Linked DNA regions of Homo sapiens: regions 1 and 3 are each linked to region 2. Evidence: fine-mapped expression QTL. A gene starts in region 2. Each other region holds a variant in brackets. All regions are shown on one strand. Distances are between the middles of the regions.

The links.
Region 1: its variant is fine-mapped to the expression of WSCD1 in cerebellum (GTEx, PIP above 0.99). The same link has a PIP of 0.9 or more in cerebellar hemisphere.
Region 3: its variant is fine-mapped to the expression of WSCD1 in cerebellar hemisphere (GTEx, PIP above 0.99). The same link has a PIP of 0.9 or more in cerebellum.

Annotation. Positions count from the first base shown.
Region 1 is chr17:6,131,498-6,142,336 of GRCh38, reverse strand. No RefSeq gene overlaps it. Among named protein-coding and RNA genes, the nearest start is that of WSCD1, 67 kb to the right of the region's middle. RefSeq lists enhancers at 2,640-3,194, 6,385-6,886. The variant G/A (reference allele first, on the strand shown) is at 4,397.
Region 2 is chr17:6,064,508-6,075,346 of GRCh38, reverse strand. WSCD1 (WSC domain containing 1) reads right to left here and starts at 4,968. Exons shown (of 9, transcript NM_015253.2): 1 at 4,695-4,968. RefSeq lists an enhancer at 4,901-5,732.
Region 3 is chr17:6,035,471-6,046,309 of GRCh38, reverse strand. No RefSeq gene overlaps it. Among named protein-coding and RNA genes, the nearest start is that of WSCD1, 29 kb to the left of the region's middle. The variant G/A (reference allele first, on the strand shown) is at 4,830.

The sequences.
Region 1 (10,839 bases), 67 kb before region 2:
ATGAGTGCTTAGGTCAAAGTCAGGATCAGTACTGATATCATGCTAATGCTGCATAACAAACCAACCCCAAATTCAGTGGCTTAAAATAGTATTTATTTTCATAATCATGGGTTTGCAGGCTGATTACAGTATGGCTGACCTAGACTGGTCTCAGCTGGGTGGCTTTGCTTCAGGCTACAGGTTGACTGGACATGGCTCTAGGATACAGGATAGCTTCAGGTCCATTTTACATGTTTCTTTTGGGGTGCAGTCTGAGGTGGCAGCATCTACCTGGCACCTGAACTTTTCACGGTGGGTCATTGCAGTGCAGAAAGAAAAAAAAAATTGCACCAGAACATTTCAAGCCTCTGATTACATCACATTCACTAACATCTCATTGAACCAAACAAGTCATATTGTCAGCCCAAACAAGTCGTATTTTCAACTCAAAAGTAAAGAAGTGGGGAAGTATACTGTATAGATCATGAGGCCATGGAAACGGCGTACAAGTAAAATTCTATTACAAAGTAGTGAAGAGTTGGAAACAAAAATTCAGTCTATCACTAAGAAACCATAGGGGTAAAGAGGAGGAAACGGATAAGTGAGATGATAAGCAGGAGCTGGAGGTGGAGACAGAAGGGGGAGAATCCGTGCTACATCTAGGTGACTGAGTCGGGGTTTTAATCCCACGAAACAAAGGGCAAGAGCCACCACAGTAGAGTCATCCCAAGGCACTACAAACATCCTGCAATGCAAAAGTGTCACAGTAGCACATAATGTACTCTGTAATCATGCAGAAAGACATAATTTCCTGAGTGCTATTAGGTCTGCTGATGAGAGGAGAGACCACACAAGCTAAGCGGAGGTGTGGGTGGAGGAGGTTGACTAGATCCGTGCACCACCTATGCAACTCCAGCCACCCCAGGCCAGCTCCCTCCTCACCCTACTGCCTTCTGACCTCTGCTCCCTGGCTCTCACCCGGTCATCAGTGATTTCTTCCAGGCTAAATCCAATGGACGCTTACGGGACCTTCTCTTACTTTGATCATCTGTAGCCTGTGACACTGTCAATCATGTCCTCCCTGAAAGTCCCAATCCTCTTGAATTCTGTCTTGTAATTCTTATTTGCATTTTCCTCCTATCTCCCTGAATTTCTTCTCGGTGTCTTTTCGAGGCTCATTCAAATTTTCAAGGAGGAAAATGTTGGCGACTGAGCTAGAGAAAAGAAGCGTTTGGCAGTAAATGGTCCAAAAATATTTTGCTTTGGAAGCAACTAGAGCCTCACACTAACAATGCCTGCTGTAATATGGAATATGGAGAGTGAGCTCGTCTGGGACAAACTGCCATATTTGAAGAGTGACACTCCCATTTGAACAGTGACACTCCCCACCGCCCCATCTCACAATAATAAATGGAGATACAGGCTCAAGCCAGTATTGACCGCATCATCATTTCCACCTCCCTTCTGAGTTTCTGAGGGTAGGCTTTGTGTTAAATCATCTAAGTCTCCTACCCAGCCAGCCCCGGCACAGGACCTGGCAAGCAGTAGGTATGCTGTATTGATTGTGTCCAGTTATATCCAATATATATTATATTGGATTAGTCTCTCTATATAATATTCTACATATATAATATTTATATATTAATGCAAATATTTATATTTATATATTTTCATATTATTCATATCATTGATATATTATTTTATATATTTATGTAATTTTATATTATTTTTAATATATATAATTTAAAATATAAAATAATATAAAATTACATAAAAATATATAAAATAATTTTATAGTTTATGTAAATATTTATATTTATGTAATATTTACATATTTTATTCTTATTTACATATTTTTAATTTTGTATAATTCATATAAAATATTACATATAATATTTATTAATATAATATATTATTATATAATATTTATAATATTGCTATTGATAAATATTAAATATAATATTAATATTAATAAATATTTATTTATTGCATATGCAGAGGGGAGGGGGCACAGCTTTGAGCTGAAAAGTATAAAATGTGCTTCTCCATCTATAACAACCATCCACCTACCTTTCCACTCCATCTCCCCTTACCTTTCACCTGCCGGCACTCCACTATAATCACTGTCAGGTTAATCTAACCAAACATACCTCCGTTGCCTTAGCTCCACCTTCCTTCATCATTCAAAGTTCAGCTCAAATACCACTTCTTCCATGAAGCCTTTCCTGATTTTCCAGGAGGAAGCAACCACTTTGCCTCTGAACACCTTTAGCCCTTTCTCCAAATCTCTTCTGGAGCATGTACTACTACCCACCTTGCATCACCATGGTTTCTGCCTGCTGCTTGGAGACTTCCTCACTTGATGGCCAGTTCCCTGCAGCCGGGAATTTCTTTCAAGTTTTGACTTAACCCCAGTATTGAGCCAATGATTTGAATAGAGCAGGTCCTCAATAAATCAATAAATAGTTGAATAACAAACAAATTGAGGTAGGAGTGGCAATCTGGGGAAAAACAGTTATATGTTCTTAAAAACTCCTATTCCAAGTTTGTAGTTTTGGAAAAAGAAAAGTAAAATCAGTTTTTATTGAATCCATCTCCTCTCTGCAGAATTATTTTGTGGTCTGTTTCATTGGGCCAATTACATTTATGAAGACGAATTACGACAGGCGAGAACCCACTTACATGGATTACTGTGTGCTAACTATGTAATTAGCGGCCGGTGACTAAGAGGGGAGTTTTTGGATATTTCCATAAGAGAAAAACACATTATGATCCATAAAAAACAATGAGCAATGATAATTTCATTTTTATTGGTCATTTAAAAACATTCACTGATAATTCTCCCCATGCTTAATAGGCATACGTTTGCTGCCTTCAAAATATACTCATAAACTTGTCGCAGAAAGCACCGTTACATAATCATTCAGCCTTGCTTCCATTATGAAACCTAAATGAAATACTTTCAAAGATAAAAAGTGTGGAGAGCTTCAAGGGCATTGAAACAGGTGGTAGCAGTTATCCTGAATCAGCAGGGCTTTCCTGGGAACCTGGCATGGGCCAGGCCCAGGACTAACTGCTGCATTGTTCTGGAGCCAAGGGAGTTTCACACCTGAGAGGGTTTATCCTCTGTTTTGCATTTGAATTAGAAAAGAATAAGTCCCTGTAACCAGCATCCCATCCTTTCCATAATCAAGAGGACAGCTGGAAGTCCTTTCAAGGGACCTGGACCCCAAGGCCAGGCCAAAGGCAGGTGCGTAGCAGGTGATAGGAGATCTGAACTACATGAATGAATGATGAAGGCTGGGTGTTGAAATGAATGAATGTTGAAGGCTGGGTGTCCAAAGAATGGTTAGTTGGATGGATGAATGGATGGATGGACTCAGTTGAATTGAATGGAACGTCTGGCATGCTGTCCCTTGAGGTTCTGGCAGAGACTGCACTGGTTCACAGCAAATCTGGAAAGAGAACCAGATTCTCGGGCACCCAGGAGGCAGTGACAGTCTCCAGAGCTGCCTCTCAAATTCAGAAAGGAAAACTCTTTCATGTGTTTTCAAAACCACTGTATAAAATTATTTCAATCTTCCTAACTGGAAATTAAATCCTCCACATGAAAGGCCTTTTTCCTTTCTTTGTGTTCCTTTTGGCCATGCAATTCTGTTCTCTGGCCCCTGACTGACACCTGGCCCCAAAGCCCACTTTCCTATTGTGTACAAGGCCAGAAACCCATTAAGGATGTACATGGAGATTGAGGAGCTAATGTCGGCTCTCAGATCTCAGAAGGAAGAATCCAGCTCCCAGGCCTTTAGGACATGCTGATTTCTTTCCAGAAACAAGATCCATCAATTGACTTGTGCTTTGAAGTGCTTGGAAGCCTGACAAATTTTCTGAGCCTGGTATGTGTGTGTATGCGTTTATGTGTGAGACCAAAAGGGTGTGTGTGCATGTGTGATTGAGTATATGTGTGAATGTGTGTACATATGAGCGTATGTGTTTGTGTGCGTGTGTGAGAAAGTGTGTTCACACGTGTATAAGTGTGTGTTTATGTGTGAGACCAGAAGCATGTGTATGCATGTTTATGTTTGCACATGTGTACGTACATGTATGCATGTGTGCGTATGTACGTGTGAAAGTGTGTTTATATGTGCTGTGCACATGTATATGTGCATGAATGACTCAGCTGCCACTGAGTATCTGTGTTATCTCCAGAATTCTCCCTGTGTGGGGCAAGTGCAGAGGAGGGAGGACAGGGAAAGCTCCAGGGCTTGCCCCCTCCTTCTGAGCACCAGCAAGACAGGTGACCACCAGCAGGCAGGTGGGCCAAGTCCCTGTCTCCATGTTGGCCCTGGCCAAGCCCCAGGTGATGCGGCCCCTCCCTTCTGCACCAGCAACCTCAGTTCTGCCAGCACCTGTGGTTCCC[G/A]CAGCTGCAGCCTGGCCTCCAAACGGACGTGGCCTGCTCACCATCTGCCCTTTCTCCTGTTTCCTACATTGCACCTGGCTTTCTTCTGCTCCCCAAACATTTCCAGCCTGTACAGCTCTCTGATACTGGGCAGCAGCCTTAGAACCAATATTTGTCCCAGGAAGATCATGTTGGGAGTATAATGAGCCCAAGCCACTCATCCCTGTTGGCCTGGGCACAGCTCTAAGGTCCTGTCCTCCTGAACGTTAGTCAAAGCATTGTCCTGGACTAAAAAGGATGAGACATTCTCCTCCATATCCCTCAGGAGTAGGTTTGGAATGACACCCATTGGTGAAATGTGTTCATGAGATTTCCCCAACAAGGGGAGGGCAATGATTGGATGATGGAAGAGAATGCTCACTATCATTGCTTGAGTTCTAGGAAATGCCTTGCTTTCATCAATGGAGTGGATGATTTTTCTCTGTTGCCTGACTTTTTTTTCCTTATTACTCATTTGTTCATGAATGCATTTGCTTTTTAATTCAACAAACATTTACTGAGCACCTTTAGAAGCCAGTGGGTCAGAGTGGTTACCTGAGGAACAAGGCAGCCTGGGCTCAAATCCCAGCTTCACCATTTCCACGTGGCCTCTCTGAATCCCCTTTCCTTACCTGTTAAATAGGAGTAAATATAGTACCTGCCTCATAAGATTGTCTGAGGATTAAACAAAGTCATGTTTTAACCCCCCCATAAATATAGCAACTATTACCCTATTACCATTGATGTTGTCATTGCCACTATTCCTTTTTTTTTTTTTTTTTTTTTTTTTTTTTTGAGATGGAGTCTCTCTCTGTCGCCCACTCTGGGGTGCAAAAGCACGATCTCAGCTCACTGCAACCTCCACTGCCCGGATTCAAGCAATTCTCCTGCTTCAGTCTCCCAAGTAGCTGGGATTACAGGTGTGTGCCACCACACCTGGCTAATTTTTTTTGTATTTTTAGTAGAGACAGGATTTCACCATGTTGGCCAGGCTGGTCACAAACTTCTGACCTCAAGTGATCGATCTGCCTGCCTTGGCCTCCCAAAGTGCTGGGATTACAGGTGTGAGCCACTGCACCTGGCCTGTCATTATTACTTTGAGCCAAATAATGAGTTGGTGCTGTAGAAACAGATGTAAATAACATTGCCACTGCCCCACAGGAGCTCACAGGCCAGTTGCAAAAGCAGATATGAAAAAATGCCAGTGATGGTTAGAAGCCGAATGGTGGAAATGGAACTGTGGGGATTCCAGAGGAGAAGCCCATTCATTCAGCCTGGGAGAGCAGAGAATGCTCCCTGGAGGAGGCAGATTCATTCAAGTTGGACCTTGAACGATATTTAAGATTTGAATAGTCAGAGAAGGGGAAGAAAGACATACTAGGCAGGTGGAAGAGGTACCATGTGGAGTGGCTGAAGCATCAATGCAAGACTGCATCCATGCAAAATGATGGTTATGTGGGCAGGTTGCAGAGGGCTTTGAGTGCCAAGCCAAGTGGAGCCTGTGGGTTTTATTCTCCTGGGCCATGGTGAGTGGTTTCAGCAACTCAAACAAGAGAAGGATTGGATCTGATCATTACCGAGGGTAAAACTTGCCATTATAAAAATGAATATGCCTACCTAAGACTGAGAAATATTGGCTGGAATAAGTGACCAGATTTTCAATTCTTTGTCTGTGGGGGTTTGCTTCCTGCCGGAGGCAAAGGGGCCAAGAAGGATGATGTCACAGGGGCCGTGGGATGCCTCATGTCCAGAGCAGGCAGCCAAATCGTGCTTACCGGAGACCAAGCGGCCGGGGAGATGAAGAAAGCATTTAGCACCATATACCAAACTTCCTTCGATCTCTACAGCCCCAGTGGGCTCCTTGAGATCTGGGGAAGCTATAGAAGGGAAACTGAGGCACAGAGGGACTAATAATATAGCAAGTTGGAGCTAGATAGTCCTGAGTCTGCATCCCCTTTCTACCTGTTAACTAGTTGTGTGACCTCAGGGACAAATCGCTTGACTTTTCTGAGGCCCCATTTTCTTATCTGCAAAACAGGATAATAATGGTAACTATTGGCCAGGCGCGGTGGTTCATGCCTGTAATCCCAGCACTTTGGTAGGCCAAGGCGGGTGGATCACCTGAGTTCAGGAGTTCGAGACCAGCCTGTCCAACATGGTGAAACCCTGTCTCTACTAAACATACAAAAAAATGTAGCTGGGCATGGTAGTGGGGTGCGTGTAATCCCAGCTATTCAGGAGGCTGAGGCAGGAGAATCGCTTGAACCTGGGAGGTGGAGGTTGCAGTGAGCTGAGATTGTACCATTGCACTCCAGCCTGGATTACAAGAGCGAAACTCCATCTCAATAATAATAATAACTACTTCACAGGGTGATAGTGAGGTTGCAGTGAGAGAATATAGAGTGTTTCTGTCAAGCTGCTGTGTGTGCATTAAATGCTCACCAGATGGTAGCTGTTGGAAGAGCTCCGGAGACTTTGGAGAGGCTTGGCGCCTAGGCTTTCCTAACCTCTCACTTCCCCTTCCTCCCTTAGTCCTTGCTGATTGTCCTCTGACCAGGCTGCCATCCACCCCAGGAATAGCCAGAGAAGAGTGGGAATGAAAAGTGTAGATACTTGCCTGGGAGTTTTACAGTCAGAGAAAACCAAAGCATAGCACGTATTTTTCACCACTTCTCCGAAGAGGGTAGGATATGCATCATACCTTTTTTTCCTAAGTCCTTTGAAATTTTAGCTATAAATGGTAAAACACATCGATGAATTTCCCCATGAATATTTGTTGAAATGGCACTTTTAATACGAAGCCATTTGAAAAGTGAACCTCCAAGGAAAATGCATTTTGTGCAGCCATGGATCTTAAAATATTTACTATGAATATGCTCATCTTAGAAATATTACACACTGCTTTTTTATTATTTGTTCTGGATGAAATCGCAGGGATTTGGCTTAGATGGTTTTTACAAGCTAAACAGTATTGGCAAGATGATTTTCTGGACTCTATTCAACTTTCTTTCTTTCCAGTTCTTGATGTGTTGGTTTCTGGCAATTTTTTCAAAGATGTCTCTGGGATTTGCAAACAGTCAGTGAATGGGGGCTAAGCACACACCTGCTAACAGATAAGTTATGAAAAAAAATAATTTGAGAAATATGGACACTTGAGCTAGAACAATCCTAGAGGTTGTCTGATCCGATGCCTTTGCTTATACATGAAGGTGGCCTGAACGCCATTTCTCACCCCTCTGATCAGATTGGCAAAAGTTGAAAAGAGTAATAACTCTTAAAATCTTTACAGATGCAGGAAATAAGTGTTTCATACATTGCTGGTGGCGGGGACATGAATTGCTACAGACAATGTGGAGAGCAGACCACCCATATCAGTTAAAATTAAAACTAGACAAACCCTTTGAATCAGGAATTGTACTTCTGGGAATCTGTCCTATAGAACAAAAAGCACGGCCGGACATGGTGGCTCATGTCTGCAATCCCAGCACTTTGGGAGGCCAAGGCAGACAGATCACGAGGCCAGGAGTTCGAGACCAGCCTGATATGGTGAAACCCCGTCTCTACTAAAAATACAGAAATTAGCCAGGCATGCTGGCGGGTGCCTGTAATCCCAGCTACTCAGGAGGCCTAGGCAGGAGAATCGCTTGAATCCAGGAGGCGGAGGTTGCAGTGAGTGGAGATCACGCCACTGCACTCCAGCCTGGGCGACAGAGCGAGACTCCATCTCAAAAAAAATAAAATAAATAAAAATAAAAAAGCACTAGTATGTAAATATCTGTGTAGAGTAATGCTTGTCAAAGCATAGTTTGTAGTGGTACCTGCTGCAGCGTCTAAGAACAGCCTGGATATCCATCAAAAGGGAAATGTGTGAATAAGTTGTTCCCTGATTCTGTAGACTAGTGGTCTCTAAGCATTTCTGATTGCTCATTTGATGATAGCATGCACTTCCAAAAGATGGATATTTATTTGCATGTGTGAATACCTTAAGTGTAGGATAAACAAACAGAAAATAGAAATTTTAAAGAGAAGAGATCAAAATAAATAGAGATAAAATTTTTCATATGTTTTCCTTGTGCCGGTACAGTGTATACACCTCATTCTGGAGATTCCCAACTAGAGAATATTAGATTTGCCTTCAAAGGAATGAACGTTTTGCATCATTTAAGGGCAAATTGAATAGAAAACACAGAAAAATCATTTTATTACATTTTTGCAAAAACAAATGATGGCCCCCAAATTTTTATATCTATATCTATAGACATATAGACACAGACAGAAATATAGATATATACACATACGCTTTTATATATTTATATGTGAATGGTGTGATAATGGTGTGAATGGATACTACCAGGCTGTCACTGGTTACTATATCAGGGGGCTGAACGGGAAAGTAGGAAAAGGAGAAGAATTGGGGAAAAATAAGATACAAAAACTATAGGCCGGGCACAGTGGCTCACACCTGTAACACCAGCACTTTGGGAGGCTGAGGTGGGAGGATCAGTTGAGGTCAGGAGTTTGAGACTAGCCTGGCCAACATGGTCTGTACTAAAAATGCCAAAATTTGGCTAGGGGCAGTGGCTCACGCCTGTAATCCCAGCACTTTGGGAGGCCGAGGTGGGCAGGTCACCTGTGGTCGGGAGTTTGAGACCAGCCTGGCCGACATGGTGAAACCCCATCTCTACTAAAAATATGAAAATTAGCTGGGCATGGCAGTCCATGCCTATAATCCCAGCTACTTGGGAGACCGAAGCAAGAGAATCACTTGAACCTGGGAGGCGGAGGTTGCAATGAGCCAAGATCCGGCCACTGCACTCCAGCCTGGGCGACAAAGCAAGATTCCATCTCAAAAAAAAAAATTAGCTGGGAGTGTTGGCACACGCCTGCAGTCCCAGCTAGTCGGGAGGCTGAGAAAGAGGATCACCTGAGCCCAGAAGGTGGAGGTTGCAGCGAGCCAAGATCGCACCACTGCACTCCAGCCTGGGTGGCAAAGCAAGACCCTGCCTCAAAAAAAAAAAAAAAAAAAAAAGACTACAGAAAAATGGAAAAATATTCATGATATAATGTTAAATAAAAAAGAAAAGGTTCTATCTATTACATCATGCATTCATACAGGTAAAAAATTAGCAGGAAAAGGGAGAAGAAGGCAATGCAGACAAATGAAAGAACTGATTTGATTAGGTGCACAATTTTTGTCTTGGGTATTGGTTACCATTTTAATATTCACTTGAACAGATCCTATTTCAGCCTCTCTCTGGGTTATTTTCTTCTCAGATCTCCATCTCTCAGCACAATGATGCCATTCATTGGTCTCTTTGCAGCGATCGTCTGCGTGCCCACATCTATGCTCCATGGGCCCCACATTCCTGTGTCTTCATTTTGCGCAGCTAGCAGACAGACAGGGGTCTCCCAGGCCCAAGCCCAAGTGACCAAAAGGAGAATCCAATTGCCCAGCTCTGGTCAGGGGCCCCAGCAGTCCCGTGAGCTCTGGCCAAGGAGACAAGGTCATGAAGTCAAACCCAGATGTCAGCTCTACTGCCCTGTTTGAGTGATAGTTCTCAGGGAAAATGATAAGAGTCTTCCAAAGATGCATGGCCAGTTAGAGGTAGGGTCAGTTGTAGAGCCCGAGTTCCCCAGACCCCAGGCAGGGTCCCTTTGGAATTGCTTCATTCTCCACATCGAAGGACTGGTGACCCTAAGAAGGACTTTCTCAGTGATTTATGGGATTCAGAGAAGCAAGAGGTGTCAAAATGGGACCCAGAAAAATAGCAGTGACACAGAGCAGAATGTGGCTTTTTAAACGAGTGAAAGTAGTTGAAGGTGGCTCTGGCTTATTTCCATCTGCTGTCCTTCAATGACTGAAAATCTGCATAGAACAGTTGGCTTATGGCGTCCACTGGCCAATGCAGCTCTCAGAGCTGAGAATTTGCTCCCTTCCTGTGTATAAAACACCCTCTTCTTGGCCTCAGGCCTCGGCCTGACCCTGAGCAGGGTAAAAAGGCTCAGCCCACTGAAAGAGAGACAGAGAGAGAGAGAGAGAATGAGAACGAGTGAGGGGTCCTGGCTGGCAGAAGGCTCTGCCATTAGCTGGGGAGCTGAGGTTGGGATAAGCCCTGCTCAGCACTCAGACAGGCAGGAGCCTGCACCAGGTCCAGGCAACTTCCTTGATCAGAACTTGACAGTGCCAGAAATGGCTCCACTGCCCTTGGTTACTGGGCCATTTGAGGGGAAAATTGAATTATAATCCTAACATCCCTTGTACGTCTGGAAATTTGTCATAGTAATTAAATGCTAATAAGGCAAGAGAGATTAAACGGATAGTTTCCTTAAAGATTACACTCCACCACCAAGATCAGGTAGAAATTATAAGTAATGTAGTGGTGTAGTCAGATCACTCCAGCTGAATAAATGCCACGATGAGAAAG
Region 2 (10,839 bases):
AGGTGCAGCCAGTGGCCACTGGGGTTCAGTCAGATGACTCAACCTCCCCGTGACCCCCGGTCAGAGAGAACAGGCAGAGGCAGCTGAAGGGAAAATGACACCAGACATCCCCAGAAGGATCTCAGCTACTGTGGCAGCTGCAGCAAGGGCTGCAAACCTCTTGGGACTTGGAGCTGCCTGCTCTTTGCAGGGCAGGAGCCCCAGCGACAAGAATAGGGCCCAGAACGTTGCTCTCTAGACAAGGTGATGGGCATCTGGGTCCTAGAAGCTCGAAGCCTCAGCCTCAGTGACTGGCAGCCAGGGGGTCTCAGCTTCAGGACCCGGGCAGAGTACATGCAGGAGCCTCCAGCTGGGCTCACAGCTCCTGGATTCCCCTCCTGTGACTTTCCCCTTGCCCCTGCCCCTACCCCGCTCAGGCATAGCGCCTGGCTTCTGTACCCCATCCCCTCTCCAAAAGACTGTCCCCTTTCCATCTAAGAAAGTGATCTTTCTAATATGAGGAGCTAATGATGCCACAGCCTGTAATGGCTTCCCAGGGATTGACAAGCAAGCCCTGTATCCCACCAGAGCATCACCTGGTTAGCGAGAGAGGCGTCAAGCACCCTCACGCATGCCCTTCCACCAGCCAGGGATGCTTGTGCCCCATCTCACGGCTCTGAAATGCTTCAGGCCATCAAGGTTCAGCTCCCATGCCTCCTCTTCCATGAAGCCTCCCTGATCTCTGGAGCAGAACCACTCCTCAGTGCTAGGCACTAAGCAGCAAGGCTGCTGCTACAAACTGTGCCTGGGTAGTGTGTGGTCTTGAGTCAGGGTTCCCTGCTAATGTCCCTACCTCTCCTTCCAGCCTGTAGGCCTGTCAAAGGCACAGTCAGTGCCTCTGCCCACCTCTGGGTGGGGCACAGGGAATGCCCCTGAAAATAAGTGCCTGCTGGACTGGACATCCTTCGATGCTCAGGGCCATGCTGCCATTACTGACAGGCCTAACAACTCTGGGTCTTGGAGACTGAGAAAAAGCAAGAGACCCACTAAACAAAAATCTGTTGGGCCCTTTGGGGGAACAAGGTCTGGGAAATGCAAATGGGGTGGGATCCCTGTCTTTGATGAGGCAAATCTCTTGAGAGTTTGAACTTCAGAGCTTGAAAAAAGATTCAAAATTTTAATATGTTGCTAAAAGGGTATAAAACATAATAGGTCAAAACTCCATTCCACACAAAGGAGGGAAACCTCTTCAATTAACCCACTGTTGGGGTTCATATAAATAAAAAATTTAACATACCATATTAGAGTTCCAGGTACTTTCACCAACTGTCAAGTGCATTGGATGAATGATCAGATGAACAAATGAATGAGTGATCTTCCCACAAATCTGTGAGGCCAAAATCATTATCGTCCCCATCATACAGATGCAGAATCTGAGACAGAGAAGGCCAATTAACTTGAACAAATACAAACGGCTATTGCTAAGTCGCTCTGATTCCAGAGCATATCATCACCAGCCATATCACATGGTCTTCATGTGTGCAATACCAAGGACAGAGATCCTTCCAAGCACCATGCTGGAGGCTGGGTCCACACAGAAAGACACAGCACCAGCGCCGGGGCCGGCATTTTTCCTTTCCTGGTGCCTGATTTGGAGCCTTTCTCACTTTTGAAACAGCCAGTCGCAACCTTTTCCAGCCTATCTCTGGGTTATCTCTTTTATTTTTATTTATTTTTCAAGAAGGAGTCTCGCTCTGTCGCCCAAGCTAGAATGTAGTGGCATGATCTTGGCTCACCGCAACCTCCGCCTCCTGGGTTCAAGCGATTTTCCTGCCTCAGCCTCCCTAGTAGCTGGGATTACAGGCACACACCACCATGCCCAGCTAATTTTTGTATTTTTAGTAGAGATGGGGTTTTGCCATGTTTGCCAGGCTGGTCTCAAACTCCTGGACTCAGGTGATCTGCCCACCTTGGCTTCCAAAACACCAGAATTACAGGTGTGAGCCACCACGCCTGGCCTGGGCTATCTCTTTTATAGAATCTTATTTTGTTTACTTATTCATGTGTTTCTTCCACCTGGTGCTGAAAGCTTAAGGGTCGTCTCAAGCCCATCCCAGAATCTGGAAGGTAAACAGGTGTTGAAACCCCACGGAGTGAGTTGGATACAGGTGGACAAGTGAGTGGAGTGCCCAACCAAAGTCAGACCTGCCCAACTTGATGCTGCCACTGGGCACTCGGGCTATGGGAGAGAGGCCAAGACAGCCTGCTGCACATCCTTGTCCTCAGAATACTCTCGACCCCCTCATGTCAAGGGAGCCACTCTCTAGAAGGGAGCTCACATCTCCAGGGGCTTCCGGCAGCAAAGGAAGGGAAGCGAAGTGAAGGGGAGGGGCCTTAACAGCTACCAGCAGGTGCACTGTATTTCATAGCTGATGAAATGAATCCAGCCCATTCTTCCATCCACTTCTCACATCCACACCAGGAGGCAGGGCATATGCAGAGTTCCTCCCTGACCACATTCTCCAAGTGGCACACTTCCGATAATTTTTCAGGCCGTATGTCAGCACGATTGTCAAAGCCATGATGAGGAGAGATTAAAGGAAGAATGTGAAGGCCAGACCAGGAGGCCCAGGGAGAAGGTGGTGAGCGGAAAGCCACATTCATTCCCTCATTCCCCAGATGAGCAGCCCTGGATGTTAGGGCCCAGCTCTGGCCCTGCTAGTGTATATGATTATCACCTGCATTTTAAGGCCTAAGGCCCTGAAGGTCTAAACACTGAGCTGCCCCAAAGTCCTTGGCCTTGACCTCATTGTACCTCCAGAGAAAGAGTCAGGGAGCTGGTCTCACCAAGGCTGATGGGGGTCTGAGCTGGATGGGAGTACAAGCTTGGAGCTTCTATAATGAGAAACACCACTTCCCTAGAGGCCCTGCTCGGAGGGGTTCCATCAGGGCCTGGAGGCTCTGGATTCAGAGGCTCTGAGTCGCCTGCTCAGGCTGATGCCATAAGGAACCAGCTCTGTGACTCATTCCCCAGTGCTCTGGCCAAACTGATCAGGTTGGAGGCTCAAGCTTCAGCAGCAGACCCACTAGTGGCACTGAATATCCACTTCTGCTCGGTTAGGAAGACAGGAGGAAGAGACAGGAGTCTGGCCTTCTGCCTTATCCCAGCTTCTCTTCACTTCCAACCAGACATGCCACAGGCCACAGGGCAGTACCCCATAGGGCACAATGCCCACTGAAGAGAGGGATCCCCTCACCCCAGAAGAAGGCATTTTTACAGAGGAGCTGTGGAAATGGCCCTGCTGAGGCCTGGAGGATGCAGCCACAGGTGAGAGCCTTCTGGCGGAGAAGATGAGGCAGTCAGGCTCAGCCACCAGCCCAACCACCGCCAAGCCTCCTTCAGATCCCATGCCTGGGAGAGCTCCTGCTCTTCCTCCTAGAAACCCTGAGCTCTGGCAGCCGGTTGAGGCCCCTTCCCGGAGGATCTCCTGAGGGCCAATCTAAGTGTGTGGGGGTGGGGGCATGATTGAGAGAGACAAACCTCATTCTCCCATAGCCCAAGGAAACCTCCCCTAGCTCTCTCCCCAGCACCTGCAGCCACCAGGAGTGGGTGATTGCAAACAGCGCAGGGCAAGCCAGCTTTATATCTCCTGTAACTTTCACTCCCCACCACCCTCACTTTCTGTGCCTGACAACCTAGGCAAATCAGAGGAAAAAAGAAAGGCCCCCACTCCTGATGCCAAAGTGGGATAAACCAAGTGCCTCCATAAACCTAAGCATGCTGTTCCAGCAACAAGAGGGATGCGGGTATCTCATGTTAGAAAAGTACAGCGGAGTCCTGCATCTGTCCATCTTGGGAGCTGCAGGGGCAGGGCCAGTGTGGGGAGCAGCTGGATCCCAGTGCAGGGCTATGAGGCTAGAACTCCTATATGAGCCTTCCCACTGCTCAGCGGAAGGAAGAGCGGTCCCCTTCCCCACCCGCATTCCCGATCAGCAGAGCAGGCATCATCCCAGGCGCACAAATGCTCAGGAAAACCACCAGCGAGGTTACCCGGAGGCAGGGGACCCAGCCAGGTACGTACGCTCCTGAGTAGCCAAGAAAAACGCAATTTAGCAACCTTCAGTCGTGAGTCTCCGTCCACACCTACGAAGACGCAAAGCTCTACACTAGGTAATTTTCTGGACAAAATACATACGTTTTGCTTTTGCCTCTGCCTCTGTTCAAGTTCACCAAGAGACGGAGCAAACCCTCCGCTGACCGGAAGCCTCTCTTGGTAGCGGAACGAGAGGGAGCTGCTTCTGGGTAAACGTCGCCGCCTAGGAGGGAAGCTGTGCGCACCCCACACCCTGCCCTCGCCCCCTCCCCGGGACCAACCGCAGCGCCCTCCCGGGTGACGGACGGGCTCTCAGGACTCCGGAGGGGGACGCGGCTCGTGCGGCGCCTCGCGCACCCCCACCCCATCCCGGCCGCGCCGAGCGCCGCCCCCGCCCCCCCACAACCCCTGCACGCACCCGCTCACTCTCCCCTGCCCCGGCCGAGCCGCCCCGGGCCCCCGGGAAGGTGCCCCCGGCAAGCCCGCCCTGCAGCCGGAGCAGGTGCAGCCCCGCCGCGCTCCCAACCGCGTCTGCACAAACTTGTTTGCCCGCGGCAAGGGGAACACCCTGCTCGCAGCCCGCGCGGGGGTCCGGCTGGAGCGCCGAGAGACAGGACTCACCCCGCGATCGCGGCCGGCTGGGGCGCCCGCACCCGCGCCCATGGCCCGCCTTCCCCGGGCGCCGAGCCCGCAGCCCCCCGCAGTGCCCGGAGCCCAGAAGCCCCGGCGCCCGCACGTCTCCGGCCGCCCGCGGCAAGCGGACCCACGCGCCCGGGCACAGGGCGCCGCCGCCTGGCTCCCCGGGGCTGCTGGCGTCCGGGCTGAACGGCGGGGCGGGCGGGCGGGCGCGGAGCCGGGGCGGGCAGCGGGCGGGCGAGCGGGCGCCGGGCTCTGCACATGCTCACTCGCGCGGCCCGGGGACAGCGGCCGGCCGCCGCCGGGTCCTAGAGGCGCCGGTGCGCACCTCCCGCCGCCCGGGGGAGGGGTCGCGGCTCCGCCGGAGGGGGCCCACGCCCTGCCCCGGCCCGCGAGAACACGCGCGCGGGGCGGGCCACACGCGCCACTGCCGAGCAGAGACGCCGCCACCCACTCTGATACACACACACACACACACACACACCAGTCACCCAGAGCCACAGCCTTTCACCGGGGCCCCACGGGCTCTAACACACGCACCATGACGCTCACACCCAGACACAGACCCACAAACACACGGGGCACTGCCGCGCAGAGGAGAGCACGCCGCCACTCTCCCATGCAGACTCACAGCGACAGCCGCACACTGCCTGACACACACATCCCGAATCACTGCTTCCCAGAGACACCGACACCCACACTCACACACACACTCTCTGGGCTCTGCCCCACTCACCCAGAAGCAGACTGGGCCACTGTGACAGGCACGCACACGTACACACACAGCCACACAGTTTAGAGTGCACTCTAATACACACACACACCACACACGCACGCACACACACACACACACACACACACACCGGATCACCGTCCCATGCAGAGCTAGAGACAGACGGTCACAGCTTCACACACATTCACACTCAGAAACAAGCACCTGCTGGAACACAGACACTCTCACACAATCTGAGACAGACCTACACAGAATTGCAGCCCTACAAATACCCTGACACCAGCTCCCGCGTCTACACACTCGGGGGTCGGCCGCCGGCTTATCATACTGCTCCACACCGCACACAGTGACAAACCCACGCCTTGACATAGTTGCCCACAGAAGCAATGTCACACACTGGTGTCTACTAACAGACACACTCTCAGAGGGGCATACTGGGCATTGACCCACAGGCTCTCTCTCTCTCTCTCTCTCTCACACACACACACACACACACACACACACACACACACACGCACCGAGGTGGAAAGAGGCTGAACAGTCACACAAGTCTATACACAATCCCCCTCTTTAAATAAAGGCTGGATCCAAACCTAAAGATTTTTCCCAGGGAGGAGCCCCACCCTGTTCCCCCAAAGCCGCCAAGTCACAGCATCTGCCCTGCTCTGCCATGTGCACCGGTGGACCCTGTCCTCACCCGGAGCTGGCTGCTAAGATGCTCCCAGAAGCTGAGGACAGCAGAGGCAGCAGGAGCAGGTGGTGGTGCCTCTTACTCCGTCTTCCTAAAAGGGAGTTTCATGCCTCCGACTCCCGCTAGGGGCAGAGCTGCTTGGCCTGGCTCCGAGGAGCTGGCTTGCAACAGGTGCAGGTGGCAGGGAAAGCGTTTGCCTGGGGACCAGTCACAGTCCCTCCTTACGCGGGTCAGTCAGGTGGCGCCCAGAGCGGGAAGAGACTCGCTGCAGTTTGCATAGCTATGTCTGGCCAAGTGCAGAATTAGAACAGAGTCTGCACCATCCGCATGAAGGCAGAATGCTCTGAAGGTCTTGGGGCACCTGGATTTAATATCCTTAAGCCCAGGAAGAGGATACAGTAAGTGAGAGACGAATTCTGTGCTGCCTCAGAGTCCCAACCTTGCAGAAAAGCCCCCTTCACATATATATCCTTTACAGAATGTGAATGTGTGTGTCGTTACGATTTATAACAGCAACCCACTGTGCAGTCTCGCAATGCTGTTTGGTTTGCAAAGCCCTCTCCATGACCAGCTACATAATTTGAAGGGCCTAAAATAAAAATGGAGCCCCCTTTTAAAACACTATCAAGAATTTCGAGAGATAAAAGGAGGATATTAAACCAGTACGGGTCCCTTCTGAGCACAGAATTCAGAGCCTTTCACAGATCTCATACCCATGAAGCCAGCCCTGGCCCTCTCGTACCCATTGTCCCACTTAAAACTGATAAGTCTATAGATGCCTTCATGTGCCCATTTGACAGATGAGGCTTTCAGGTGGGTGATCACAAAAGGCTCACAGCCAGTTGAGCCCAGGGGAATTCAAGCCCAGCTCCTCTGGGAAGCCAGACATTTCCCGGCAGCTGCTATTCAGAAGTGTCCATCTGCAGCAGCAGACACTTGGTACAGAATAATCAAGCAGAAGAGTTGATGTGGCTGCCACCAGGGAAGGAGGTGACTCAAGAAGAAAAAGCAAAAGGCTGCTGGGTATCCATGCCATCTGTGCTCGATGTCACGCTGCACCTGCCCTGCAAAGCACCCCACCAGGGGAACACCATACAGCCCCTGTGTGGGTAGAAGCTAGAGTCAACTACTGACTCTAGGGAGGGAGGTTGAGGAAGGAGGCGCATGAAAGAACCCAGGAAGTAATTGAGAAGGGCTTGGGAGTCAACACGGCCAGGAGTATTTCAGTGTCAGGACAAAGCCCTTCTTTCTAGTGATGGTGACCAGTAAGAAGTGATAGGGAGGACTGATAACAGAGTCACTCCTAATCACAGTCCAACTCCTTGTCCCTCAGCTCTTCTCTCCACATAGTTGGGACTGTTTCATAGTAACTTGTATACCATCCCTGTCCCAAAAGCAATTGGTCCCACAATGCTGCCATCATATGTCCATTTACTGCTGAGAAATGTATCCCCCCACCCCCCAGGAGTCTGGGACTAAGAATCAGACAGGTCTGATGTCACATCAATCCCATCTCTCTGTGTTTCGCTCTTGAGTCATCCGCTCCTCTCTTTGCAGACCTCAACTATTGGATCCTAGGTATTTACATCACCTCCTTACTTCACGTCATCTGATAGCTTATTCTTCCTTCCTTCCAGCCACCCATCTTTTCATGTATTTACTAAGCAAGGCACCCATTGTGTGTTAGATTTTGTGTTGAACACTGGAGAGTCTTTGATAAAAAAGAACCGGTCCCCTGCAGGAGTTTCCAGTGTGAAGAACTGGACGAGAAAACAGACCAAAGTGAAAACATACCACAAAGAGAGAGCTCTGCTGTATCAGTCAGGATGCCTGCAGCCTCAAGTAACAAATAGCAAAGTAAAAGTGGTGTCAAGCAAAGGGTTTATGATCTCAGACAGCAAGACGCCTGGAGGTAGGCAGTTCCAAGGTTGGGTGATTCAGTCACTCAATGATGTCAGAATCTGTGGTGGCCTCTCTGTGCTCCCTGGACCGCCCCCTCATGACTGCAAAATGACAACTGAAGCGCTGTTCGTGACTTCCCCAAATGACAATACCCTAAGGCAAGAAAGAAAGGGACACTTCTTCCCACAAGTTTCTTTTTTCACTGGATAAGGAAACTTTTGCCAGATCCTCCTTCTGGCAAGGCCCATTGGCCAGAAGTGAACCCTGTGAGTACCCCTCAGCCAATACCTGGCCAAGGAGGAATGGGTTTGGCTAATTATAATTCATCCTCTGGGGATAGGCCAGTCATCTCAGAGCGCATCCCCACTTGATCAAAATTGTTTCTATGTTAGTAGATGGCTGCTGGGATGGCAACTAGCTGTGATGATAGATAGATAGATAGATAGATAGAGAGATAGATAGAGAGATAGATAGAGCGAGCATTGGAACCTAAATGACTCGCAACCTCAGTGTGGAGGAATTCAGGGAAGGCTTCCTGGAGGAGGTGACATGTAAGCTGGCTTTTAGAGGAGAAGTGGGCATCATCTGGGTCACCAGGTGCAGGGGCCATTCCAGACAAGGGTGGGGGGCATCCTTTGCAAAGGCAGGGAAGTGTGAAACACACAGGCTGTCACAGAAACTGCCAGTGACTTTGCACTAGCTGGTGCAAGGTCAGAGGTGGTTGGAGAGGAGGCTGAACTGTGACTGGCCACTGAACCCCGACTAGCCACTGAACCCCCATTCAGGCCACTGGCACCAGTGGACAAGGCAGGGCTGTGGACCACGCTTGAGCCACCACTATGATGAGCTCCCTTCACGGTGGTCATCTAGTCATCATCAGCCGTGGAAATGGTCATTCAACCAGTTATGAGTCATCAGCCATCCTACACTTCTATGTCATGTTGACAAAGGCAGCCTGACTAGTCATAGGCATGGGGGTGACAAGCCCACGTGGGGGTGAGGGCCGGGCGTGGGGCTCATATCTCTCTCGCCTTGACCAAGTCACAATCTCTCTGGGCCTCAACACTGTCATCTGCAAATCAGAGAAAATGCCTCCTTTATGGGAGTGCTTGTAAGGACCAAATAAAATGTCTGTTGAGTGTGAAGCAAAACAACATTTGCCATGGAATACGCACATAACACATTTTAGTAAATATTACAAGAAGGGGTTTTCCCCAAAGCTTTGCTAAAATCCAGAAATGCCACATGTGCAATGTTCTACTGAGCCACCAAGCTTGTGATACGTTCTCTTCCTCCACATGCCACCGCCCCAGAGCCTGCCCTGTCATTCTGGCTAAAGCATCCACCTCACTGTCCAGTTTCCAGTCTTCATGGAACATTGCCCTATCATCTCTTTGTGTGTTTGTTGGTTTATGATCTGTTGTCTCCTTCCCAACCCTCACAGCCCCCACTGCTAGAATTTAAGCTCTAATATGGCCCGGGAACTTACTATCACATTCAGAACTTTATCCTTGGTGCCAAGTTGAATTCTTGGTACATAGGCATACTTACTAAATATTTATTAAATAAATAATTGTGTTTTTAAAAACATGATGTGCCTAGCATGACATATTTTTAATAAACCCAAGAAGGCTTCCCACAGTCGTCATGTTTCTTCCCAAGAATTCAAGAGGCTGCTTCCCCTTGCTCTGGTCACAGACTGATCCCTGTATCCAGTCCATTGGATTCTACTGGCCACCAGGGAGACCCAGAGGATGAGTGCGGATGGCTCACTGCACCGCGTGCCCCTGCCAGGGACCGTGGTGGGATGAGGAAGCAGGTGCTCCATCGACACCCAGAGGCACCTCAGTAATCTCCTTTACCCATGCAGCTTGGCTGTATGCTCCACCAAGATGTTGGCCCACAAGGTGACACGGGCTTGACTGTCTCACCTGTGAAGGTTGCCTTTTGCTCCTCTGGACACTGCCTCATCTGAAAAAGCATCATTCAGAGATGGAGAGAAACTTTGGCAACATCTCCAAAGTGGAGATGCAGTTTCTTCTTTCTTTGCTTTGCTTTTTCCCCGCATAGTGCTGAGAAGTATTCGATGCCTGCTCCATGCAGGCAGATCTGAGGCTGGGTTCGGCACTTTGCTGGGCTGTGTATTTACTTGCTTTCTCCTGTGAGTGCTGCAGCGACTTAAATATGCCTCTGTAAAGATGCCAGTGACACAGATGGTAATTGTACCCCCTGCTGAGCTGTGCCTGCAGACACAGGGGTGTCAGGGGTGGGAGGGCGGCAGGGAGAAGTGGAATAGGTAATCTGTACCTGACTGGGAAGGGAGGAGCCTCCCGGATCACTGGTCTGGTCTAGAGGCAACTAGACTTCCTAGGCATGGGCCATTGGTACCCAGAAAGCTTCAGTAATTCACAGGTGGCAAAGAGAGCACAGTGAGGAAGCCTGAGTTCCTTTTCTGGCTAGAGGTGAATAGGCTATGTGGTCTTATGCAAACCTTACCTCTCTGAGTCCTGTTTTGCCCTTCTGTAAAATGGGCAGGTTTTCTAGTTGCTCCTGAAGAGCCTTTCTTTAAGGAAGGCAGGGGAATAAGACGAGAGTGATTTGGGGCCAGTCGTGCTTTTTTAGTTTGGGAAAATGACATCATTTTCCCAGATGTAGTTTTTTAATCTGCAAAATGGGGAAAGTATTTTATTTCTAGTGAAGAGTTTCTGGCATAGGGTTTATATTCAAGAAATGATAGCTATGATGATTCTTCCAGCTCTAACCAGTTCTGGTGTGGGGTGTGATATAGCAGGTGCTGGAATAAG
Region 3 (10,839 bases), 29 kb after region 2:
TGCAGAATGATAGGACATTTCAATCACTGCAATAAATTCCGCTGGACAGTGCTAATCTAGAAAAGAGTTTCTCAACATTGGCACTGCTGACATTTTGGGCCTGATACATTTTTGTTCAGGGAGGCTGTCCCGTGAACGTAGAATGTTAAGCAGCATCTCTGGCCTTTACCCACTAGATGCCAGTAGCACCTCACCCCCAGTTGTGACAACCAAAATATCTCCAGGCATGGCCAAATGTCCTTAGGAGAAGAGGGGAAATTGCCCCTAGTTGAGAACCACTGGGTTAGACCCTATAGACCATCATGAGCATTGCTCAGGAGTGGCCATAAATGCAACTGGGCTTGGCTAGTTTTCTTCAAGGCCCTGGGATAGTAGCAACAGTCTGCACAGTCCAGCCAGCCCTATCAGAATGAGCCAAGCAAGGGTCTAGGGTTCTTGGACAATGGGAAGGATGGAACAGGAGGAGGGTTGGCAAGGAGGCTCTAAGGAGCACTTGGCTCAGACAGGTTACATCTGCATCCCTGCCAGGCCTCCTCCAAGGCCTGCCTTCTGGCCTCCTGTTTCCTCACTCACGATTAGCCCCACACACTGGCTACTAGAGTAATTGTTGTAACAGTAATATCCCCCTGACTGTTATTTCTCTCTTTAAGTATACCCAATGTTTCCCATTGCTCATAAGATAAAATCTAGATCCCTTGGCCTAGCACTCACGCACCTCACAGCCCAGTTCCTCTGAACTTTTTCAAGTTCGTCAGCACCTCCCTTTAGTTAGCTGCAGGCCACACCATTCCTTGCCCAAACCACACGCTTTCATGCTTCTATGAGTTTGCATATGCTGTTTCCTATACCTGGAATCCCCTCTCTTCCTGTTCTTCCCATTAAAATCTCATTCATCTTTTCTATTTTAGGGGGCCTAAGACCACCCACATGATCACTGGGTCACTAGAAGAAATCACGGGTCTCAGCATAATTGACTTCACGGCTGTAGTTTATTGCAGTAAAAGAAAACACAACAAGATCTATGCAGGCAAAAGACATCAGACGGACTCTGGAGAAACCCAAGCACAGGCTTCCTCTCCCTCCCATGACACACTGAGGAAGGGACATGCTGAGCATGCTTTTTTCTCCAGCAGCAAAAATTGCAGCAACATGTATGTAAAGTTTCAGCCTGGGAAAGCCTGTTTGAGACTCGGAGTTTAGGGTGCGTTTTTTGTTTTGTTTTGTTTGTAATTGGGAGTTGATCACATAGGCACTCTTTGCCTAGCAACTACCAACATTTCATACTCCCATAAGGAAAATACATAAAACACATTGTGCAAAGAGTCCAGGCAAAGCAAAGCAACTTTAGCAGTTAAAGGATGTTTCAAAAGCCAAGTTCTATGACTCCAGCCAAGGGCCTACCTTGCAAGCAAGCTCTTCTAAAGATAGAAGCTTCAAGCTTGCTGTATTACTGTATTAATTCTTTTCGGCACTTTTCTTTTCCCAAACCGAAGGCTACTACACTCTTTGTAACACTTTTCTTGCCTGCAAGGTAAAGCTGATTCATGGCCTCTAGGTCCCATAGCTTCCCATGACTCCCTGTATCACAAGAGAAACCATGAGGGCCTTGTAACTGCCTGTGTATTTCCCCCTGCAGACTGTAAGCACCTTGAAGGCAGGGACTGGCATTCTGTGTTGGTGCTCCCAGGGCCACCACCCCAGAGGCAGATCTGGTGGTCCCTCAAACAGGAGAGTCAAAAGGAGCCTGAGCTCACATCCTCACTCTGCTGCCAACTGAGATCGTATTTTTCCAGGTGGCTCATTGGCGGAAAATACTTGGAATGGAGTACTGAGATACAAGCCGGGCATTTGGCGAGGCATCTTGAAGTGCCCAGGTGAACCAGGAGAGGGACAGAGATATCACTGGCTGGCGAATAATGCTTAGCCTCACCTTAGGAGAAGGACACTAGTAAGATGCTACTGGGAAGAGATGAGGCAGAGGAAGGGCTGCCTCAAAGTTCTGTACTTTTAGTTATAAACAGGAGGCCAAGATGGGCAGATCACGAGGTCAGGAGATTGAGACCATCCTGGCCAACATGGTGAAACCCTGTCTCTACTAAAAATATAAAAATTAGCCAGGGGTGGTGACGGGTGCCTGTAATCCCAGCTACTCGGGAGGCTGAGACAGGAGAATCACTTGAACCCGAGAGGCAGAGGTTGCAGTGGGCCCAGATTGTGCCACTGCACTCCAGCCTGGGGACAGAATGAGACTCCATCTGAAAAAAAGAAAAAGAAAAAAAAAAAAAGAAAAAAGAAAAACAGGGTTTATACCCCATCCTCTGGACTTTGGTGTCCAGGTGACCTGCATTGGAATTTCAGCTTCACCATTTCCTGTGATATCTAGCAAGTGTCTTAGCTTCTCCGAGACTCGGTTGACTCATTTGTAACATGGGAATAATACCTCCTTCACGAGGCTATTGTCAAGGTCACCTGAACTAAGACACATACAGCATTTAGCTTAGCACCTGCCCAGCACCCAGTCAGTGGAGCTGGTTGTGACTGCCATCCTCATAGTCACTGAATGATTATTGTTGGAATGTGGGGCTCAATTTGCCCTGCTCCCTTGAGCAATGAGCAGAGGAAAGGCTTCCTGAGTGTCAGGTTCTGCCTGGCTATGCCCATCCTTTGGGCAGCAGTTCCAGTTGCCACAGGAGTATTTGGCTTGGACCCCAGGGCTCCCTCACATCGCTCAGGCCAGTGTGGCCAGTTGGACTTACCCTGGGAAAACATTTACCATCTCTTGCCAAATAAAAAACACCCCCAGAGACTTGTACGTAACCATGGCAACTGCTTTCTGAGCAGGATTATTGTTACTTTATCAGAAAGTTCTCTTTTCCTTCAGCTTTTAGATGCTCCAAAGTTCACTGAATTTTTAAATGTGGTTTTATTATATCTTGGAACTAAATCTTTTTGTGCTAGAAACTGTTCCCCAATCAGTAATGAAAGCCTCCAAGAAAGAGTCTAGAAATCTCTCCCAAAGCAAAGACAACTTATATTCCCCCAAGTTGCCCACCACCATTGCCTACTTTTGCCCCTAGTGAATATCATCTGGGAAGTCCATGTCTTCTTGCTATGGATGACCAGTTTCGTCTCCTGGGTCTTCTCTAAGCTGCTCCACCCACAGAACCCAGGGGAAGCAGAAACTGTGGACTCTTCAGAGTAGGGACCTGCCAGATTCAACTCTGCAGCTGAGCTTCCTGGGCACCAAGCACAGATAAATGGTGAGTAGTTAGTTCAAGCCCATCCCAGCTTTCCAGACTGAGGGTGAGATTTTTTAACCTCCTTGGGCTCCAGTTTCCTCTTTGTAAAGGGGCTGATGATGTAAGTTAACAGTCTAACACATCGTTATGCATCCAATAAGGGCTCTATAACTGAATAAATGAATGCTTTAACTAATTAATTCCTTGCTGTGCCTCTTGCAAGTTTCCAATGAAGAAATGACCACAGAAATTCATTATAAGCTGCAAAGTGCTCCTAAGTGCATGTGAGCGTTGTTTAGGGTCGTTGTGGCTAATAATGAGAATGCCACCAGCAGCTGGCCCACCCTGCCAGCAGAAGTGCCTCCTGCTAACCCTGCTCCGCTGTGCTCAGCTTTTCCATGCCTGCCTTGATCATCCGTGCTCCTCACAGAGGAGAGCCCATGAGCCCAGCCTTGATAGATAACACTCCGCGCTCTTCCACCCTGTCTTTCTTCCTGGTGTCCTTACACCCTCTGGCTTCTCAGGGTTCACACTAAAAGCCACCGCCTACAGGGAAGGGTGAAGGAGAGAACATAAATGGCAAAGCCAAGATCTGGGAATGGTGAGGATATGGTTTGGATATTTGTCCCCTGTAAATCTCAGGTTGAAATGTGATCCCCAGTGTTGGAGGGGGGGCCTTACGGGAGCCATTTGGGTTATGGGGGCAGATCCCTCATGAACGGCTTGGTGCCCTTCCCAAGCTCATCACTTACCGAGAGACCTGACGGTTAAAAAGAGTCTGGGAGGCCGGGCGCAGTAGCTCACGCCTGTAAATCCCAGCACTTTGGGAGGTCAAGGCAGGTGGATCACCAGAGGCCAGGAGTTCAAGACCAGCCTGGCCAACATGGTGAAACCCCATCTCTACTAAAAATACAAAAATTAGCTGGGCATGGTGGCAGGCACCTGTAATCCCGATTACTTGGGAGGCTGAGGCAGGAGAGTCGCTTGAACCTGGGAGGTGGAGGTTGCAGTGAGCTGAGATTGTGCCATTGCACTCCAGCCTGGGCGACAGAGTGAGACTCCATCTCAAAAGAAGAAAAAAGTCTGGGACCTCCCTACCCCCTCTCTTGCTCCTTCCCTGGCCATGTGACACACCTCCTCCGCTCTACCTTCCACGACGATCTTAAGCTTCCTGAGGCCTCACCAGAAGCAGATGCCAGCACTATGCCTCTTGCTCAGTCTGTAGAACCATGAGCCAAAAATAAGCCTTTTTTTCTTTTCTTTCTTTCTTTTTTTTTTTTTTTGTAAATTACCCAGCCTTAGGTATTCCTTTACAGCAATGCAAAACGAACAGGTGGTTTATCTGACTTCATCTTGTTGTTGTCCAGGGAGAAATAAAACCCTGGGGGTTTCTCCATGAATTAACCTGTCCCCAGAAAAAAATGGCCATGCCAGCCCTTCACCCCTTGAGGTTTAGAGCCTGCATAGAGGACATTCTTTTCCCAACTGCTTTAAGGTGAATGAGTCCTTGGATAGTAGAGGAGAGGAACAAGGTGTCCGAGCCCAGACGGGAGGCTCCAGCCTGTTCCCGACACAGAAGCCGGTGGCAGC[G/A]CCATGGGGGAGCCGCCATATGCAGCTCGACAGGCTGCTCACAGCGGGGCCAGACGGTGCTGGACGGTTTCCAGCAAACACAGAGACAGAGGCATTCGACCTGGAGGTGGTGTCAAGGGGACAGCATGTGTTGCTGCGCTCCAAGGAGCTACTTAGAGGGTTAACCCTTCTCGGAAAAGGAAGGAGCCAGCTCTTGCCCTTACACCAGTGTCTCTCCCACTTGCTCCACTAAGACAATCGCCATTTTACAGCCAGGGAAATTGAGGCTCGGAGTAGTTGAGCAAATTGCTTAAGGGCCACAGCTAATAACTGGCCTGGTGACTGCTGGAATGCCACCCCAGGGATGCTGTGGTCCCACCTCTGGCTCTCTTCTGCTCCAGGAAGACCCTGCCAAGGTGGGAGCCCAGCCTTAGAAGAGCCTTGGAGGAAGGGCTGCTGAGGTGAAGGTCAGAGCACACTGGGAAACAGGAAGGTGCTAAAGGGGTGTGGGGAAGGCACACTGTCCAGCCAGAAAACAGCCTGAACCAGAAAGCTGGGGGCCACCCCCTTGGAAAAGGCGCCTTCTCTTTACTTACTTAACAAGGATAAGTTATTTATACACACACCACCGATGCCCAGGCTGGGCCCGAAGTCGGCATCCAGTGAACCCCGGCTTCATCCATGAATGACACTATCTTGGGAAGCGCACCGGCTAGAACAGCTCCAGTGAGGTCGCCTTTTACCCTATTATCCTGCTGGTGTTAGTGTCTAAAATTAGCTGGTCGATACTGTAAATACTGCTGAAAGGTCAGGCCTCCTGGAGCCCGCAGTGGGGGAAGTCTCAGCGCTGAGTGACTTTGACCAAGTGAGAAAACACAGCGGTTTAAAATTTCAAAGCTGGCTCAGAAAGAGCTCAAGCCTGGGTTGTCTAAAATTTCTCCCTTCCTCGACCACCGATGACCAATGTCACCAAGTCCTGCTTACTCAACCCCAAGAGCAGCCCTTACGTCATCTGCCCGCCCCTGTCTTAGCCCTGGCCACACCATTCTCACCTGGACAATTGCTCAGCTTCCCTTCTCACTGGCCTGCCTGGCCCTCCATCCAACCCTCCAAACTGGCCCCTCACAAATCTTCATAAAGAACACTTATTATTGGCTGGGTGCGGTGGCTCACACCTGTAATCCCAGCACTTTGGGAGGCTGAGATAGGCAGATCTCTTGAGGTCAGGAGTTCGAGACCAGTCTGGCCAACATGATGAAACCCCATCTCTACTAAAAAGAAAAAAATTAGCCTGGTGTAGGGGTGGGCACCTGTAATCCCAGCTACTCAGGAGGCTGAGACATGAGAATTGCTTGAACCGGGGAGATGGAGGTTGCAGTGAGCCGAGATTCTACCACTGCACTCCAGCCTGGGCAATAAAGCAAGACTCAGTCTCAAAAAAAAAAAAAAACGTGTTATTATTTTTATTATTAAGTTATGTGAGCATTTAATGAGGGATTAATACATGCCAAGCCCAGCACCAAGCACTTTATACACTTCTCAAAATAATCCTAGGACAAAGCGACTATTATCATCCATGCTATCATCTGAATGTGTCCCCCAAAATCTATGTGTTGGAAACTTAATCCCCAGTGCAATGGTGTTAGGAGGTGGAGTGTTTGGGGAGGTGTTCAGTTCATGAGGGCTCCACCCTCATGAATGGATTAATGCTGCTATAAAAAGGGCCTGCAGGAGTGAGCTCATTCCCTCCTGCTCCTCCACCTTCCACCATGTGAGGGCACAGTCAGAAGGCCCACACCAGATGCTACGGCCTTGATCTTGGACTTCTCAGCCCCCAGAACTGTGGGAGAATATATTAATATTTCCGTTCTTCATAACTTACCCAGTCTCAAGTATTTCTGTTATGGCAGCACAAAATAGACTAAGACATTCTACAGCTAGTGAAACTGAGGCTCGGAGTAGTTGACTAAATTGCTTAAGGACCGTGGCTTATTAATAAGTAGCAGACCTGGGGTTCCAACATAGCTCTGTTTGACTCTGTGGTCCTTATTCTTAACCTCCACACCCTACGGAACAGCCCTAATGCCAGATGTAAATTAGGCACGGCTCCCTCAAAGAGCTCAGTGTCTCAAGAGACAAATAGGCCCAGAGAGAACTTATAAAGCAATAAGACAGAGCCTGTTCAAAAGGAATAAGGGGCTGTCAGAGATGATACATTCACCTGGCTGGGGTCGCTGGAGGGGGACCTGCCACCTCACTGAGGACTTTGCTGGAGGGGGCATGGGATGAGAAGGACATTTTGTGCAAAGGGAACAGCATATTGGGGGTTTTGGTAAACAGGGTAAAACTGAGAGTTATGACCTGGTAGCAGAAGAAGTAACAGCAATGAAGTAGGGAGAAGCGGTATGACTAACAAGCATCTTACACATCATCTGTCCCCATTACACTTTGCCTCCAAGCCAGATCCTTGCCACGGATATTCTTATCTCCCTGCATGGCCGTTCCATTTTCCAGATGCTCAGACCAAAGAGCTTGGTGTCATCCTTCACTCCTCTTTGTCTTTCATCTCATATCTGGGCCATCAGCAAATTTATTCACCTCTACTTTCAAACTCTATCCAGGATCTGATCGCTTCTCACCACCCCCTCTGCCCCCACACCTGGTCCAAGCGGAGCCACCATGACTTTGCCCCTGGATGATTGCAGTCACCTCTGAACTTGTTTTTACCTCTGCAGTCTGTTTTTCATAGTGACCAGAGTGACTTTTTTTTTTTTTTTGAGACAGGGTCTTGCTCTGTTGCCCAGGCTGGAGTGCAGTGGTGTGACCTTGGCTCACTGGAACCTCTGCCTCCCGGGTTCAATTCTGCCTCAGCCTCCTGAGTAGCTAAGGTTATAAGCACCCACCACCATGCCCGGCTAATTTTTGTATTTTTAGTAGACACAGAGTTTCACCATGTTGGCCAGGCTGGTCTCGAACTCCTGACCTCAAGTGATCCACCCGCCTCAGCCTCCCAGAGTGCTAGGATTACAGGCATGAGCCACCACGCCCGGCCCAGAGTGACTCTTTTTAAAAGTAAGTCAGATTGTGTCACTCTTCTGCAGAAAACCCTCCCATCGGAGTAAGTCAGAGCAAAAGGCAGATCCTGACAGTGATCTGCAGTGGCTGGTGGAATCTGCCCCACCTTGAGCCCCTGAGCTGTCTTTCTTGTCCCTTTGCCCTCCCCGCTCTGGCCACACTGGCCCGCCAGCTCTTCCTAGACATTCTGGCATGTGCCCGCTTAAGTCCCTGCATCTATTGTTCCCCTTGCCTGGTACCCACACAACTCACCTTCTCACTTCCTTCAGGTAGGTGTGCACTTGGTCACTTTCTCACCGGGGCCTTCTCTAGCCATGCTCTTTAAAATCTGAACCTTCAGGCCAGGTGCAGTGGCTCCTGCGTGTAATCTCAGCACTCTGGGAGGCCAAGGCAGGTGGATCACCAGAGGTCAGGAGTTCGAGACCAGCCTGGCCAACATGGCGAAACCCCATCTCTATGAAAAAAAAAGCAAAAATTAGCCAGGCTTGGTTGCCTGTGCCTGTAATCCCAGCTACTTGGGAGGCTGAGGCTGGAGAATCGCTTGAACTCAGGAGGCGGAGGTTGCAGTGAGCTGAGATCGTGCCACTGCACTCCAGCCTGGGGAATAGAGCGAGACTCAGCCTCCAAAAACAACAAAAGCAAACAAACAAACAAAAAAGACAGAGGAAGCTTTGCTCACTTACCCACCACTCACCTCCAGTGGTGCAGCCTGCTTCCTAACAGGCCACAGACAACTACCAGTCTGTGGCCTCGGGGTTGGGGAACCCTGAGTTACACCATGCAACACCCATCTACCCATGTTTCCTGAACAGACTCCCTCCTTTCACACCTCTGAACCTTGATCAGGCCGTCCCTTTCCCCAGTCACTCTGCGTGGGCCTGGCCTGTCCCAAGGCCCAGCCCTATCTACTCTTACCTTCCCCAGGAAGCCATCCTTCAAAGTTCTCCCTCAAATTCCCTGGCTCTCTGCTCAATCGACTTCGTACCAGAACTAGTTATTGGTTTATTAGCTTATTTCTGTTTCCCAGTTAGACTGTGAGCTCAAATAGGGCCCAGAGGGGGTCCTCACCGGGGGTGGGGCTCTGCAGCCGCCTGCTCGAAGCATGGCAGCACCTGATCAATGTTGGAGTAACTGGATTACAGTAGAGGAACTGAGGGGAGCAGCCACCTCGCCCTCAACTCCTCTTCCTATCAGATATCTAACTGCTCCTCTAGGATAGGAATTAATTGTATCAAGTGAGATTTTCCTAGCCAAAAAAAAAGCCAATTTAGGGTTTTCAAAATAATTGCAGTTCTGTGTTATATCCCATTTGGGGGAGGTGACAGGATGCAGATAAACAAACCCAAAGCAAGCAGCAGAGGTGTCACCGTTTCTCTTAATAAAGGATGCACTGCATTGCTTAAGATCACTTACAAGGTGCCCTCCCACCAGCTGAGATTCCTTCAAATGCCTAGATATCCCCACCCACCACAGTGGGGCTCAGAGCAGGAGTCCCGGGCCCCCTGGCTCTGCGTTGAGTCCTGGCCGCCTGCAGGATCTCCAGGTCAGCGTTTGCCCAGGAGCTACCAGCCACCCAGCCAGTGTCTGCTGCCTCCCTCACCTTCAAAGCCCATCCTCTGCTGGCTTCAGTGTATCTCCAGCTGGAGGGTCATATCAGCCACCTTGCTGGTTTCCCTGCTTCCCCAGAACCTTCGTCCAGTCCCTCCTTCGAGCTAAGTAGCATGGGGGAATCTTTCTGGAATAAACATCTGAACATGCCCTTCTCTCCTTCGTCACTTGTAAAATTCTTTCTCTTCCTTCAAAACCCAGCTTGAATGTTACCCCATCTGTAAGAACTTTCTTTGCCTTTCCAAAGTTAAAGCTACTCCTTTGACACCTGTGTTTCTCTTTGTAATGCTTGTTACTTTGTGTAGGCTTGTTTTGACACGTCTAACCTCCCTGCCATGAGCCCTTAAACAACTGGGCAGAGATGTTGGAGGAATTCTCTGTGTTCCTGGAGCCACAAAGATGGGAGGATGGAGGGGAGCCTGTCTCTTCTGCCTCTTGATTGTGACCACAGTTCCCCATGAAGGCTTGTCTGCCACTCACAGGGTCTGCTGCAACTCTCTGGCTTGGAGGTACCACTAGTGCTAAGAAGGGTTGGCAGTGCCAGCCACGCAAACCGAGTTCAGAGCAAGATGCTGTCCCGGTGAGGGGCCTGGAAAGTGGAAGCACCTGGTGAGAGCCGGGAGGCGGCAGAGGCTGCTTGGAAATGCAGTGGTCCAGAGCTTACCCTCAGAGCTTACAGAAGCTCCTGGTGGAGGATCAGAGCCTGGGGAGACAGCTGCTCCTCACCCACCAGGCTGTGAGCTCCTCCAGGACAGGGATAATTGGCTTGCTCTGTGTCCCCAGTGTCTCCTAACGCAGAGCTGAGCATGAAGAGTGTTTGTTGGACAGAACTAAAGGCATGCTGCCTGGCTTGCTGCCAGAGTTGGGGCAGAGAGAAGAGAACCTACAGAGTGGGGATGGTGGGGCCTGGAGCTGCAGGGTGGGAGAAGTCAGGGGCTGACACACACACCACAAGCGCCCTGAGCCCAGCCTTCTGCACCACCTGCCACCTCTCCAGCCATTAACAATCCCAACACTGCTCTACTGAGATAGAGCTGCCTTTTTCAGAGCCCTGAGGTGCATACACTTTCTTACAGTGTGTTAGACACCTTTTGTGAGCAGGTAATGTGGTGCCCCGTACATCTGTAGGAGGCACAAAACAGCGACCCTGGTGTCCTGTCTGGGGCCTGATTTTTCCCAGCTCTGCTGGAGGCTGCTGTCAGCAGTGGATTTTCAGAGCATGTGGCTGAGAAATAGCCACAGCAAATTCTACACAGGGACTGTCTCTGCAAGATGGGCTTTCAGCAGAGCTTCACTGTCTTCCTATACTTTTCAATGTCTTCCTAACAGTGGCAATATGCTCACAATA